4 linked regions of the Homo sapiens genome follow. The protein of the gene in region 1 interacts with the protein of each later gene in a biochemical or structural test. Each region holds a gene or a part of one and is shown on either strand. Other genes may lie near its edges.

Region 1 (3,500 bases):
GATGACATGCAAATGTATTATATACCTCAAACAGCATTACTATTAGCACAATTAATTGGCTTTAAAACTACCATTGAACAGTGACATATTTGGGGATTTCAGTCAGTAAAACAAATCGATTGTTTCTTATGTCACACTATATAATCTATGGTGTCTTTACCTTTCATCAAAAGTTGTTTTTTTATCAAGAACTTGACAGTGGGAGCCAGGCACGGTGGCTCACACCTGTAATCCTAGCACTTTGGGAGGGCTGATTGCTTGAGTCCAGGAGTTCAAGACCACCCTGGGCTTTCCACCATGGAAACCCTGTCTCTACAAAAAAATACAAAAAAATTAACAGGACATGGTGGCGTGCACCTGTAGTACCAGCTACTCGGGAGGCTGAGATGGGAGAGTCACTTGAGCCTGGAAGGCAGAGGTTGCAGTGAGCTGAGATTGCACCACTGCACTCCAGCCTGGGTGACAGAGCAAGACCCTGACTCAAAAAGCAAATAAATAAAAAAATCAAAAGAGACAATTAAAACTTATAATAAAAAAGAACTTGGCAGTGTAAGTCCTTCTTAGCCAACTAGAAAATTAATTTCTTTTTTTATGACTAATTTATTACCTGATTCAACCTTTAATTTTTTACTAAAAAAAGCTAACCAGTAATATTACATTGATACTTTTAACCTATCTTGATTGATATTAATTACCTTTTTTAATGTGTTTGTTTTGCTTATCTAGAAAAACACACCTTGACTTTAGTCAGATACATCACTGTCTGTTAAAGGAAACCAAGCGTGAAGTGGAAGTCTAACACATGAGGATACAGAATTGATTCAAAATGGGAACAACAAGTGATGAGATGGTGTCTGTGGAACAGACCTCCTCCTCTTCTCTAAACCCCCTGTGTTTTGAATGTGGCCAACAGCACTGGACAAGAGAAAACCATTTGTACAATTACCAGAATGAAGTGGATGATGACCTAGTCTGCCATATTTGCCTTCAACCTCTGCTGCAGCCACTAGACACACCCTGTGGACATACATTCTGCTACAAGTGCCTCAGAAACTTTTTACAAGAGAAAGATTTCTGTCCGTTGGACCGGAAAAGACTTCATTTTAAGTTGTGCAAGAAGTCTAGTATTCTAGTTCATAAACTCCTAGACAAATTATTAGTTTTATGTCCATTTTCTTCAGTGTGCAAAGATGTAATGCAACGTTGTGATCTGGAGGCACATCTCAAAAACAGGTAAGCAAAAAATATAAAAGAAGTAACTCCAGATTTTGGAAAAAGGTGGTTCAAATGAACATAAAAACTTGATTAAAACAAAACAAACCAGAGCACTAGTAAGTAAATGGGTGAATCAAGTACAGAAGAGATACAATAAATAAGTTGTATGGAACAGTATTTAACATTATTTATCAAAAACATGAATACAAAAACTACAGTGAGGAAGTACTGTTTTATACCTGTTAATATTTCTGCTGCTGTAATATGAAACTGATATATTCAAATAGATGACAGGATATTATGATAGATTCTTTCTATAAAGCAGTTTGGCAGTTTGTTTTTAAAAACTATATGAATGTAAATCTCCTTTTATCTAGTTTATTATCCTAAGGAAATAATCTAAAAGCAGGAAAAATTGTATGTAAATATGTTCAGTGCAACATTGTGCATAGTTTGGTAAATTGGAATCAGTTATTTAAAAGTAGGGAAGGGTTAAAAAATACTATGCACATAAACTCAGTGGGATATTATGCAGCCAATAAAAACGATAATTTTGTTGCAATATGGAAATAAATACATTATTTTATTTGCTAAGATCTTGTAAAGATTCTGGGTTCAGGGACTAGACTGAACAAGAATTAGGAGTTGGAAAACTAAATATTTAGTGGGGATTTCTGTTCTCATAAAAGCTTTTTAAAAGGTTAAGTAATTTATTTAGCTGATGAGTTTTATAATTTGATTTTGCTAAAAGACTTGATCTTTAACTTAGGAAGAGTTACAGTATACGTCATTTGTGTAGAATCACATAAAATGGCAGAAATAAATACTGGTTTCTAATTTCAAGTTAAGCCAGTTTTACAGTATAAATCTGCAGTAATCTCGATTGCTGTGAAAAACAATGCATACTACATCATACTGGACTTAGATGTAAGAGTGTAAGTCTGATATAGAATGGCTTGCTATTATACTCACACATAAAATCATAGACTTGAAGGAGATTATCTAATCCCCCTCATTTTATGAATAAGGAGACTGAGTCACAAAAATTTAGTTAATGCTGTAGTTAGACTCAAGCTTTACTGTTCTTGTTTACTATTCTAATAAACCATGTTGACTCTATCGTAGGTCAAGTCATGTTCTCTGCTGCTATGTAGCAAAAGTTTCATTCATGTGCACATGAAATACACATTCATTTTGTATCAATATATTGTTGATATTTATTTCTAAACATCAGAGTTAAGACATGAGAAACAATGAAAAAAACAAAGATGTTATTAAAATGTTGGAAACATTTAGATTTATAGAATGCTTAACTCTAAACTGTGTTGTCTAGAACTAGGAGGTAAGATAGAGTAGGATAGACAGACTTTTGAAAATGCGTGTAATAATGTAGCATTGCATTTTTTTATATCTTCTGTAACCAGCAAGCATAGAATCTGAACATGATGGCAGAGGCCTCCTGGAAACTGACACTGGTCTTTTGAATATACTAGTCTGAGTCAGGACTAGTTATGGCTGAAGAATATTTCAGGCTGCTTCTTTCAGTAGAACTGTTCTTTTCAGTGTATAGGCTTCTTTTCTAAACATCAGTTATGAGATGTTAGAGGAACTGAATGAAATGTCAGTTCAGTTATTTATGATTTTGAGAGCTGAAAGATAACAGTTTCACAGATTTTCAGGAATATTCCTTTAACATGCATTCAAGAATTTAATTTGCAGTTGAACTATTACTAGTGTTTCTTATCAAACCATTTATAATGAGAATGTAAAAAACCTTGGTAATTGCAAACTGCCTTTTCATTTACATGTTGGTAAAGGCTTATCCAGTTGAAGGTTTCATTTTCCAGCTGTGCTTATTAGTATTGAAGTAACCAATTTTATCATTTCTAAAGTATCTTAGGCCTGTAACATGAAAGATACAGTGAAAAGATGGATGATTGGAAAAGGTGGTGATTTGCCTGATACAGACAGCTAAGAGTGATTACTGAGTATATAAATGTAAAAAAATTATAAAATGTAATATGATTTTTATATGCCATTTGAACAGATAGTGATGAACAGCCTGACCTTTCTCTGTTCTCTTAAATAAGAACATTGAAATTCAGGTAGAAATGTATATTATACAACATTCAACCCTAAATAATATAGTTCATTTGTTTATTCAGCAAATATTGATTATCTGCTATGTGCCAGATACTTTTCTAGGTGTTAGGTAGTCTCTGCAAGTTAGAATCTAATGCCGGGTTGTAGATTCCTTTAGAAACAGAACCATGTCTTTATAGTCT
Region 2 (3,500 bases), on another chromosome or scaffold:
GAATTTGCTGCTGTGGGCAAGGCCTGAGAATTAATGCAGGACATTAGGATGTCTGGGGTGCTTTGGGGGTGGTGTTTGCTGGTTTCTAGATGCTCAACTGTGTTCTAGACAAGATATTCCAAGATGTATGTATTAGTTGAGACTCTCATGCAGATGAGAAAACCCTAGTATGATAGGAGACATAGTCTACATGATTGTCAGAAGTGGAAGAAGAGACAACTCCTTAATAGCAAAGATGCTGAACAGCCAAAACAGTAGTGGATGTCTACTACATCAGATATTTGACCCAAATAAATGAATTGTTTCTATAATAATTTAGTTTGTTTTTGCCTGATTTGCAAAGAAATTGAGAACCTCAGTTGCTTGGCACACCCCAAATGTAAAAAGTGTTAACTGCAGAGGATAAATTATACCATTCTTTTTACATGTATGGTATAATTCTTTTTATATGTTTGGCATTTACAGATTACATTTTTTATTTAATTGGAAAAAATGTTATTTTTAGGATAAGAGTATATGTACAGTGCTTGTCACATAGTAGGCACCCAATAAATGATAACATTATCCTTTTTAAAATCTTTTTCTGAAACTCGTTTTCATTCTACATCCATTTTTTATGGTGAATGCATCTTGAGGGTAAATTATGCTTTTAAGAATGCTTTTTTCCTGTTGGTAATAGTAATTTTCAATACGTTTTTTGAAAATATTTATAATTTCAGGTCAGGTCTTATCTGGCATGATGGAGGAGGTGGTGACACAAATCAGAAACTCTGAAAACATAATTTGGCTTAAGAATGAATTAACAAGATGCTTTTCTTTTGAACAGCAGCTTTATCATTTTAATTATGATTTCTTTAGACTAAACCTAATTTAGTGTAAATACATTGTTCAAAAACATACCAAATGATATGAAAGGAAAACATTAAAGGCCAAGGAAAATCTACAGGAGTCAAATCGGGAACTTAATTTAATACACTAAGCTAATTCCTTAATGTATTAGTTTATTTTATTCCTTAAATGTTGTAATTATTTGGATATATAGAAAAATACATTGGATATATGGACAAAAATTCTTGAAAAGGTGGACTGCCACTTTTCGCTCTACATTTCATCCTTTAAGCCCTCCTTTTTAGGAGGTTATTCTGTGTATCCTCTGGAAAAATAACTTGCAATCTTAATGTTTTATGAAATCATTTTTTTCCCCACAAGGATTTAAAATAGCTATTACATTTTGAGTCTGACGCTTGTGAAAAAATGAGTATATGTCTTTCCAAGATTTGTGAAAGTTGGCACTGTCTCACATCCTTTGTGGGCACGGTTTGTTTTTTGGGTTCCTTTTTTCCATGGGTATTCAAAATAAATAGAATCTTGTTATTGAAGTGGGAAAAAATAGCATTACTGTAAAGCTGGTTACAGATACTGCTGGAAAGAATTTTATCATATGATTGGAAATATTTTTCCAGTTAACCTTTTAAAAATTCTTAAGAACCATTTTTCTTTCCAGCTTTTAGATGCCAAATGCATTCTGAGGTTAGTGTGGTCATTTCTAGGGAATAAAGAAATTAGTAGCTTTGGTTTTGTAATGCTCCCTAATACTTAAACCTGAAAGGAAGTATTTACTGAATATTTTAAGTGCCACAGTTAATGCCACTTTGTAATGTAGATTTGTATTAGATTTAAAATAACCTGAGACATCATAATTGTTTTTTCTTAAGCCAGTGCCCACTGATGGCTCCTGCTAACCATGTAGCATACAGTAGCACCTAATACACTAAGAGTATTAATTCCTAGAGCAGTATTTTTAAGTGTGATCTGTGGACTCATGACAGAGAGGTCCTGTCTTTCCATAATATTTTACCATTTGTTTATGATAGTAATCCTATGTATTTCTTGATACAAATTATAATTTATTTCAGATGACTTTTTTTGTTTAAATACTTTGTTCCAGGGTTTTCTCAAGAAAAAAATACCATTTTCTTTGTTGATGCTTGACTTTTCTGCAGTAGCAAGAAAAGATGGAATAATCAGCTTCTTAGATTGTTTTGCGCCACTAAAGAGGCCGTCAAAAATAGTTTGAGCTCCATGAGTAGTCTTCCTGTGTTTTGATCTTCTCCAAATAATTATTTAGGAAATGTTTGTTTTAAATATCTTAAGATCTTTGCATCTAATTTCTGTTAGTGGCATCATATTTTCCCCAGGTCAAGAACCTTGGTAATAACTGAACAGGTTTAGGGAGGAAAAGGGGAAAGTCTTTCCTGGCAATTTTGACATCGAACCGTCTCTCAAATCAGCTTCTCCTCTCTAATCTTGTTACTGCTGCCAGAGCCCCAGTCATCTTTTGTAAGCAATATTAGAGCTGCCTCCCAACTGAGCAGTCTTGCCTTCTTACAATCTATTGTTCACGTTACTTAAGATTCAATGGCTGCCACACATACTCAAGATCAAGGCCATTCTCTCTGAGTGCAGTAAGTGAGGCCTTTCATGATGCTTTAGCCCGTCCTTATTTCTTTACTCAAATGTGAGGAACTACTTGCAGTTTCCAGAATGTAACTCATTTCACTCCACCTTAATGCTTTGTTAATTGCTATTTTTCTTTCAGATTCAGTAATACTTTGTATTACTTAAGTATTAATTCATCTGTGAAGCTTTCCAGACCTCCTCTTTTACCTTATAGCCAGTTTCCTTTGTGTTCCTTGTCGGAAAAAAAACAAAAACAACAACAACAACAAAATTTCTCCTTCATATTTAGCTTAGAAAACTCCAGAAGCCCTTGATTTGGTTTAAGCTTGTACATTTTTGCAGGAAAGACACTCATCAGTGGTGTTTCTATAACTTGATGAACAACGACTATGAAGCTTAAGGATCACATGTATAAACAGACAATGACTTCACAGTCCAAGAAGCCAAATAACTACCATAACAATTGACCTAAAATGTCCAGGACTTCATTAATAACTGCCAGCTTCCTAATTTTTGTCACACTTCCAATTCATAACCAACCTGTGAAAGCCAGATATACCCCTAACCAATCACAGTAGGATGCCTCCACTTCTAGTTAGCCTGCCTACAGCTCCACAGGCCAACAGCCTCCATCAGGCCATACCTGAGCCTTCTCTTTTTTCCATTATGAAACTTCACACTCGTCTACCTGTCTTTTAGTCTCTGTCAAGATGCAAATGACGATAGATGACTCCCTTGTTGTAGCAAGCACTGAATAAATACCCTTTGCTTTTCTCTTTTGGTTGATCTTCATTTATTTCCACAAGGAAAAAAATAATGTGTTCATTCTACATTTGTTTACATCTGAAGTAATTAATAATAAATACACTTTATAAACTGCCTTTATCTCTTGTGCTAGCTATGTTTTTGTAATTTCTACATATTTTATAAACACAGAGGTTTATACTTTATAAACATATGGCGGCTTATATTTTAGAAAGGTGAAGACAGGTTTTGTCATAAGACTTTCTTGCTTTATGTGTTTACATTGAATGGAAAAG
Region 3 (3,500 bases), on another chromosome or scaffold:
GATGGAGACAAGGAAACCAATCGTTTCAATGTCATGCACCAAGGGCTTCAAGGAAAGCAAGCCCAGAATGGTATCAGCATAGGTAATAGCCTGGAGAGGTGGGTAAGGCTTCCCCAAGGTGGAAATACCCAGTTCAAGGGATAGGCCAGGCAGAGGGAAAAACACAGGCAAAGGCACCAAGATGGGAAAAGTTCAGGTAGTAAGATGTGGCCAGAAGACAGAGTAAGTGAGGGAGACTGATGGGAAGAGAGTGACCTTGTCTGAAAGGGTTCCCATCCTGCAGGTGAAAAGCCCAGAAGGTTGCTAAGCAGAGGGATGAGGAATGTGTTTCAGAAATCCCTCATGAGAAGAGAGGATGGTTACAGCCATTTCAAGAGAGAGAGTTATGGCCACCCTCCTTTAAGATCTTAGAGGATGTAAGGTACTTGATTAGGTTTAAGCAGTCTTCATTCATTTACTCTCAAATGTCTTTGAGTGCCTACTATTTGTATTAGGCACTGTCCTAGGCTCCAAGGACAAGGTAGGGAACAATACATAGGTCCTGCCCTTGGGGAGATTCTAGTCATAACCATTCTGCCCCCGTGCATTTACTCCCAGCACACATTATTGGAGCTTTATTTGGGTGTTTCTAAAACTCTTGAGCTTACCTTGGCAGGTAATTGTGCCATCACATGCACTTTTATTTATTTATTTATTTATTTATTTATTTATTTATTTATTTTTGAGACAGGGTCTCTGTCACCCGGGCTATAGTGCAGTGGTATGATCACGGCTCACTGAAGGCTTGACCTGCCAGGCTCAGTTGATCCTCCTGCCCCAGCCTCCCTAGTAGCTGGGACTACAGGTGCACACTAGCACACCAGACTAATTTTTATTTTTATTTTTAGTAAAGATGGGATCTCACTATGTTGCCCAGGCTGGGCTGAAACTCCTGGGCTCAAACGATCCATCCACCCTGGCCTCCCAAAGTGCTGAGGATAGTGCCTGAGCCACCGCGCCTGGCCCGTTGTATGCACTTTTATTTAAATTTAACCCTAAAAAGATAAGTTTAGTGTTTTTGTTTGTTTTGAGATGGAGTTTCACTCTTGTTGCCCAGACTGGAGTGCAATATCATGATCTCGGCTCACCACAACCTCAGCCTCCCAGGTTCAAGTGATTCCCCTGCCTCAGCCTCCCGAGTAGCTGGGATTACAGGCATGCGCCACCATGCCCGGCTAATTTTGTATTTTTAGTAGAAATGGGGTTTCTCCATGTTAGGCTGGTCTCAAACTCCCTACCTCAGGTGAACCACCCGCCTGATGCCTTGGCCTCCCAAAGTGCTGGGATTACAGGTGTGAGCCACTGCGCCCGGCCAAGTTTAGTGTTTTTGTTTGGTTGGTTGGTTGGTTTTTTTTTTGAGGTGGAGTCTTGCTCTGTTGCCCAGGCTGGAGTACAGTGGCACGATCTCAGCTCACTGCAACCTCCGCCTCCAGGGTTCAAGCAATTCTCCTGCCTCAGCCTCCCAAGTAGCTGGGATTACAGACGCCTGCCACCGTGCCGGGCTGATTTTTGTACTTTTAGTAGAGACAGGGTTTCACCATCTTGGCTAGGCTGGTCTCGAACTCCTGACCTTGTGATCCACCCGCCTCGGCCTCCCAGAGTGCTGGGATTCCAGGCGTGAGCCACGACACCTGGCCAAGTTTAGTGTTCTTTTTTTTTTTTTTTTTTTTTTTTTTTGAGATGGAGTTTCACTCTTTCGCCCAGGCCAGACTGCAGTGGTTCTATCTCGGCTCACTGCAAGCTCTGCCTCCCGGGTTCATGCCATTCTCCTGCCTCAGCCTCCTGAGTAGCTGAGATTACAGGCACCCGCCACCGCGCCCGGCTAATTTTTTTGTATTTTTAGTAGAGACGGAGTTTCACCGTGTTAGCCAAGATGGTCTCGATCTCCTGACCTCGTGATCCACCCACCTCAGCCTCCCAAAGTGCTGGGATTATAGACGTGAGCCACCGTGCCCGGCCAAGTTTAGTGTTCTTAAGAGAGGATACTATAATGTTGTTCCTATGAACTGTTGTTTTCATGACAGATGAACTGAAGGCAGGAAGAGCAAATAAAGGACAAAATAAGGGACTATTATATCCCAGATAGGAAATGAAGGCCCTTGCCAAAATCAATCACCCTTCAGTAAGAGGGTATTCAAACTTATCCTCAGCCCAGAGAACAGAAAAGGCCTAGGTGCTCTGCTCTTAAAATCCTACCTTGGCAGCCAGGCGCGGTGGCTGACACCCGTAATCCCAGCACTTTGGGAAGCCGAGGTGAGTGGATCACGAGATCAGGAGTTCAAGACCAGCCTGACCAACATGGTGAAACCCCATCTCTACTAAAAATACAAAAATTAGCCGGGCGTAGTGGCATGTGCCTGTAATCTCAGCTACTCAGGAGGCTGAGGCAGGAGAATCGCTTGAACCTGGGAGGCGGAGGTTGCAGTGAGCCGAGATCGCACCACTGCACTCCAGCCTGGGCGACAGAGTGAGACTCCGTCTCAAACAAACAAACAAAAATCCTATCCTGATTCCTAAAGATTCGCTTCAAGTCCCAGGAAAATGGGTGTTAAGTGTCTCCACCCCCAGGATCTTCACTGGTGGAATCTCCTTACCTGACTAGGAGTGAGACCAGCAATTTCAGGTGTCCCTGTCCCTGGCGCATAGGCAGGATCCAGAGCGTCAATATCAAAGCTGATATAAATGGGTTTGCCTCCCATCTGCTGCCTGACTTCCCCCATCAGAGGAACCAGCGACTTCATCCAGCAGTCTTCAGCCAGGACTACCCGGAAGCCCTGCAGAGACAGGGACTGAGGTTTCTGTCTGGCAGCATTTACAGGGCATTTCCTGTTTGCCAGCCCCATGCTCAGCTCTGTGTGCACATGACACTTGACCCTCCATCTCCATGAAGAGGGAACTATCCTATTTTACAGGTGAGGAAGGGAGGGACAATGAGTGGTAAGGAAGCAGGGTCAAAGCTGACTGATGGAGTTGGAATCAGAGAGAAGCTTTGCTAAAGCAAGAGTGGGAAACAGCAGCTCACGCTAGCACCTTTTGAATTGCTCTGTCCAGAAGACTGGCCTTGGCACGCTCTAAAAGCAAGGGATTTGGGTCTGTTCCATTGGGGTCTTGTCATACACGTCTATCTGAGAGCCATTCTGCCTAGAGGGTACGAGGACCAGAACTAAGAAGGTGGCAACTCATCTTGGGTCCGGACTTCCTCCCCTCTTTTTTTTTTCTTTTGAGATGGAGTCTCACTTTGTCACCTAGGCTAGAGTGCAGTGGCGCGATCTCAGCTCACTGCAACCTCCACCTCCCACGTTCAAGCAATTCTCCTGCCTCAGTCTCCCGAGTAGCTGGGATTACAGGTGCGCACCGCCACACCTGGCTAATTTTTGTATTTTTAGGAGAGACGGGGTTTCACCATGTTGGCCAGGCTGGTCTCGAACTCCTGACCTCAGGTGATCCACCCACCTTAGCCT
Region 4 (3,500 bases), on another chromosome or scaffold:
TCTCTTCCAGAGGGGGCAGGCTCTCCCGCCTTTGGCTGCATGGCTCCCTGTGCGTTTCTCGGGGGTCATCTCATTTGACAAGGGATGAGTTGCTATCCCCCAGACCCCTCCATATATCCAGCTCCAACCTGTGAATTCCAGGGAGGGGGCTACTATCTCTGCTGTCTGTGCCTTCCGACCACAAGACATTCGGACAGTGCTGAATGGTCCCTTCAGAGAACTAAAACATGACTGCAACAGAGGACTGCCTGTCGTGGACAATGATGTGCCCCAGCCCAGACCTGGAGAGGTGAGGGGGCAGATCTTCATTCTAGGCCTGAAGTCAAGAGCTGCTATTAAGGCAAGAGCCCCACTAAGCATCACTGGCATGTCCTGTTCCTGGGAAACTTTGTCACCAGCCCTGTATTTCCTCTAGTGCATCACCAACAACATGAAGCTCCGGCACTTTGGCTCATCTCTCTCCCTGCCTGACCGCGTACTCACCTTCATCCGGGACCACCCACTCATGGACAGGCCAGTGTTTCCAGCTGATGGCCACCCCCTGCTGGTCACTACAGATACAGCCTATCTCAGAGTCGTGGCCCACAGGGTGACCAGCCTCTCAGGGAAAGAGTATGATGTGCTCTACCTGGGGACAGGTATATTTAATGGTCAAGCAGGCTGCCTACCTAGTGCATACACATTCTCGTCACAGAGAGGGTACTGTAATACATATAGGTCTGAGTCCCAGGCACAGGGGCAATTATGTAATTATTCTTGTTCCTTTCCTGTCCCCTAGAGGATGGACACCTCCACCGAGCAGTGCGGATCGGAGCTCAGCTCAGCGTTCTTGAAGATCTGGCCTTATTCCCAGAGCCACAGCCAGTTGAGAACATGAAATTGTACCACGTGAGTTGTAGATTTTGGAGAGTCTATTGGGGAGACATCTGAGTCCAGAGCCAGTTTGTGACCCTGAGGTCTGGGAGATCCAGTGTATTCCCCTTCCCCACTCCGTTTTTATAGAGCTGGCTCCTGGTTGGCTCCCGTACTGAGGTGACACAAGTGAATACAACCAACTGTGGCCGTCTCCAGAGCTGCTCAGAGTGCATCCTGGCCCAGGACCCAGTCTGTGCCTGGAGCTTCCGGCTGGATGAGTGTGTGGCCCATGCCGGGGAGCACCGAGGGTGAGTGTAGCTGCCTGGATTTCTTGCTTACTGTGCCAGGGCTCTGTCCCATCCATATGTCTACGTTTCTCATCTGTTAATGCTGCCCTGCCGGAGGCTGTTTTCTTTTTCTGTCTGTTAGTGTCTACATCACTCGTGTGTCCTTCTGTCAGTCCATACTAGCTCATCTGTTTGTCCATCTAGTGCTACCTCATCAATGTCCTTGCCTCTCTGCTGGACCTGCCTTGACCTGACAGTGTGCCATCTCTAGTGGATGCTGCTTAGTTTTCATCTTACAAGAGCTCTTGGAAGTGTTTTCACAGTTGTCCACTCCCTCTTTCCTTGAAATACTTTCCTCTTGCTCTCTATGACTGCATTCTTTGGTCTCCTTTACTTTCCCATCCAACAACTGAATGTTGATATTCCTCAGGGTTCAGTCCTGGACCCATTCTCTTCACACGTTCATGCACTCTCTAGGCAGTTTCATTCTGGTTACTTTCAATACCATCTGAGTGCTAATGACAACCACAAATATATCTAGTTGAGCTGTGGAACTCCCCATCCGACTGTCTACTTGATATTCCCTTGGATGCTTCATAAGCAACTCAAACTTAGCAAGTCAAAGTATGCACTGTTGTTTCCTCTTTCTCTCACATGCTCCTCCTCTGGTCTTCCTCATTCCAGTAAAGGGACCTCCATGCATCCAGTTGCTCAAGCCAGAAATTGCCCACATCGTATTATGATTTGTACTGATTCTAGCACCCAAATGTCCTTAGTCCACCCTCTTCTGTCCACCTCTACCACTACCACTCTAGTCCAAGCCATCATCGCTTCTTAACTGGACTACTCTAATAACCTAATTGGTCTTTTTTTGACCATTTTGGGCTCCTACCATCCATTTTCCATTTAGCAGCTTAAAAGCATATGTCACGTTGAAGCAAATCCCTGACATTATATCATATTCATCTTAAATATTTCAATATGTATCTCTACTAGATAAGGAGTTTTTTGTTTGTTTGTTTGTTGTTTTTGAGATGGAGTCTCACTCTGTCGCCCAGGCTGGGGTACAGTGACGCCATCTCGGCTCACTGCAACCTCTGCCTCCCTTATTCAAGCGATTCTCCTGCCTCAGCCTCCCGAATAGCTGGGATTACAGGTGCCCGCCACCATGCCCGGCTGATTTTTGTATTTTTGGTAGAGACGGGGTTTCACTACGTTGGCCAGGCTGGTCTGGAACTCCTGACCTCAAGCAATCCACTTGCCTTGGCCTCCCAAAGTGCTGGGATTACAGGTGTGAGCCACTGCGCCCAGCCCAGGACTCTTAAAAACATTTTATTGTGGGAAAGTTCAATCATATCCAAAAGTAGAGAGAATTGTATAATGAATTTCCATGCATCCATCCCTCAGCTTCAACAACCATCAGCTCCTGGTCAATCTTGCCTCATCAGTACGTTTACTCATTCCCAACTACTTTGATGCAAATCCTGGACATCATTTCACTTCATCCATAAATCTTTCTGTCCGTATCTCTAACATACAAGGGCTTTAAAAAAAAACCATATTACCATTATCATACCAAAAACTTACTTTCTTAATGTCATCAAATATCCAGTCAGTGTTCTGATTTCTTCAATTGCATATATTTTAAAAAGTTTATGTCAGTATCCAAATAATGCTTATTAATTGTAATTGGTTGATATGTTTCTTAAGTGTATTTTAATTGTTGAGATCTTCCAGTAAAGTATTTTTAATCACTTGATTCGAAAGTGTTTTTGCAAACTGACCTTGAGATTTCCTATTTTGAAGTCCAGTTAATTTATAGCATATTTGTATACTACAGAACCTCAAGTATATACAAAATCCAGAATATTACAAAACCCCATGGCTACAAATTCTGTAGAGGTAAAAGTACTTGTCTTTTGGAATAAAACAGATTAATTCACACATGTCAAAACAGAGTGAAATGTTTAAAATGGTAACTGATCTGTAGGGCTAGATATGAAAGAAAAAACTGGCATATAATTAGAATAGTCATAACATTTAATTTTGTTTTTCTGATATTTGTCATGAATTATAAGTGTAAAATCTTATGCCGTCTCTTGATCAGATTCTTGACTTTTTGCCAGTTGGGGATATAAAGTAACTCTTGGATGACAGGCTTGGCCAGCTTTGCATTTTTGGTTAAGAACTTTAACCTGGTCTTTTAGTTTTTTGGGGGAGAACTTTTAAACATCTAAGAGAAAAGCAAGGGCTTTATTCTGTCCTTTATTGTTTTAATTTCCATTAAAATAAGAATTCACTGGTCTTAGATATCCTCTATACTTGAGCCTCAAGGATTCCCTTAAGGTATACATGAGT

Evidence for each region. Proteins that work in one complex are often made in the same cells at the same time.
Region 2: the proteins of LNX2 (region 1) and NET1 interact in a test that uses a peptide from one of them, tested with the Homo sapiens proteins (one large-scale study listed by IntAct).
Region 3: the proteins of LNX2 (region 1) and AGMAT interact in a test that uses a peptide from one of them, tested with the Homo sapiens proteins (one large-scale study listed by IntAct).
Region 4: the proteins of LNX2 (region 1) and SEMA4F interact in a test that uses a peptide from one of them, tested with the Homo sapiens proteins (one large-scale study listed by IntAct).

Annotation. Positions count from the first base shown.
Region 1 is NC_000013.11:27,579,030-27,582,529, reverse strand, and holds part of LNX2 (ligand of Numb protein X 2), read left to right. Parts: intron 1-726; 5' UTR 727-826; coding exon 827-1,233; intron 1,234-3,500.
Region 2 is NC_000010.11:5,422,557-5,426,056, forward strand, and holds part of NET1 (neuroepithelial cell-transforming gene 1 protein), read left to right. Parts: intron 1-3,500. UniProt on the Homo sapiens protein: Acts as a guanine nucleotide exchange factor (GEF) for RhoA GTPase. May be involved in activation of the SAPK/JNK pathway Stimulates genotoxic stress-induced RHOB activity in breast cancer cells leading to their cell death.
Region 3 is NC_000001.11:15,575,052-15,578,551, forward strand, and holds part of AGMAT (guanidino acid hydrolase, mitochondrial precursor), read right to left. Parts: intron 2,814-3,500; coding exon 2,634-2,813; intron 1-2,633. UniProt on the Homo sapiens protein: Hydrolyzes linear guanidino acids to form urea and the corresponding amines. Displays specificity for substrates having a negatively charged head group and short chains including taurocyamine, guanidino propanoic and butanoic acids.
Region 4 is NC_000002.12:74,674,747-74,678,246, forward strand, and holds part of SEMA4F (semaphorin-4F isoform 1 precursor), read left to right. Parts: intron 1-141; coding exon 142-289; intron 290-415; coding exon 416-638; intron 639-778; coding exon 779-888; intron 889-1,002; coding exon 1,003-1,163; intron 1,164-3,500. UniProt on the Homo sapiens protein: Probable cell surface receptor that regulates oligodendroglial precursor cell migration. Might also regulate differentiation of oligodendroglial precursor cells. Has growth cone collapse activity against retinal ganglion-cell axons.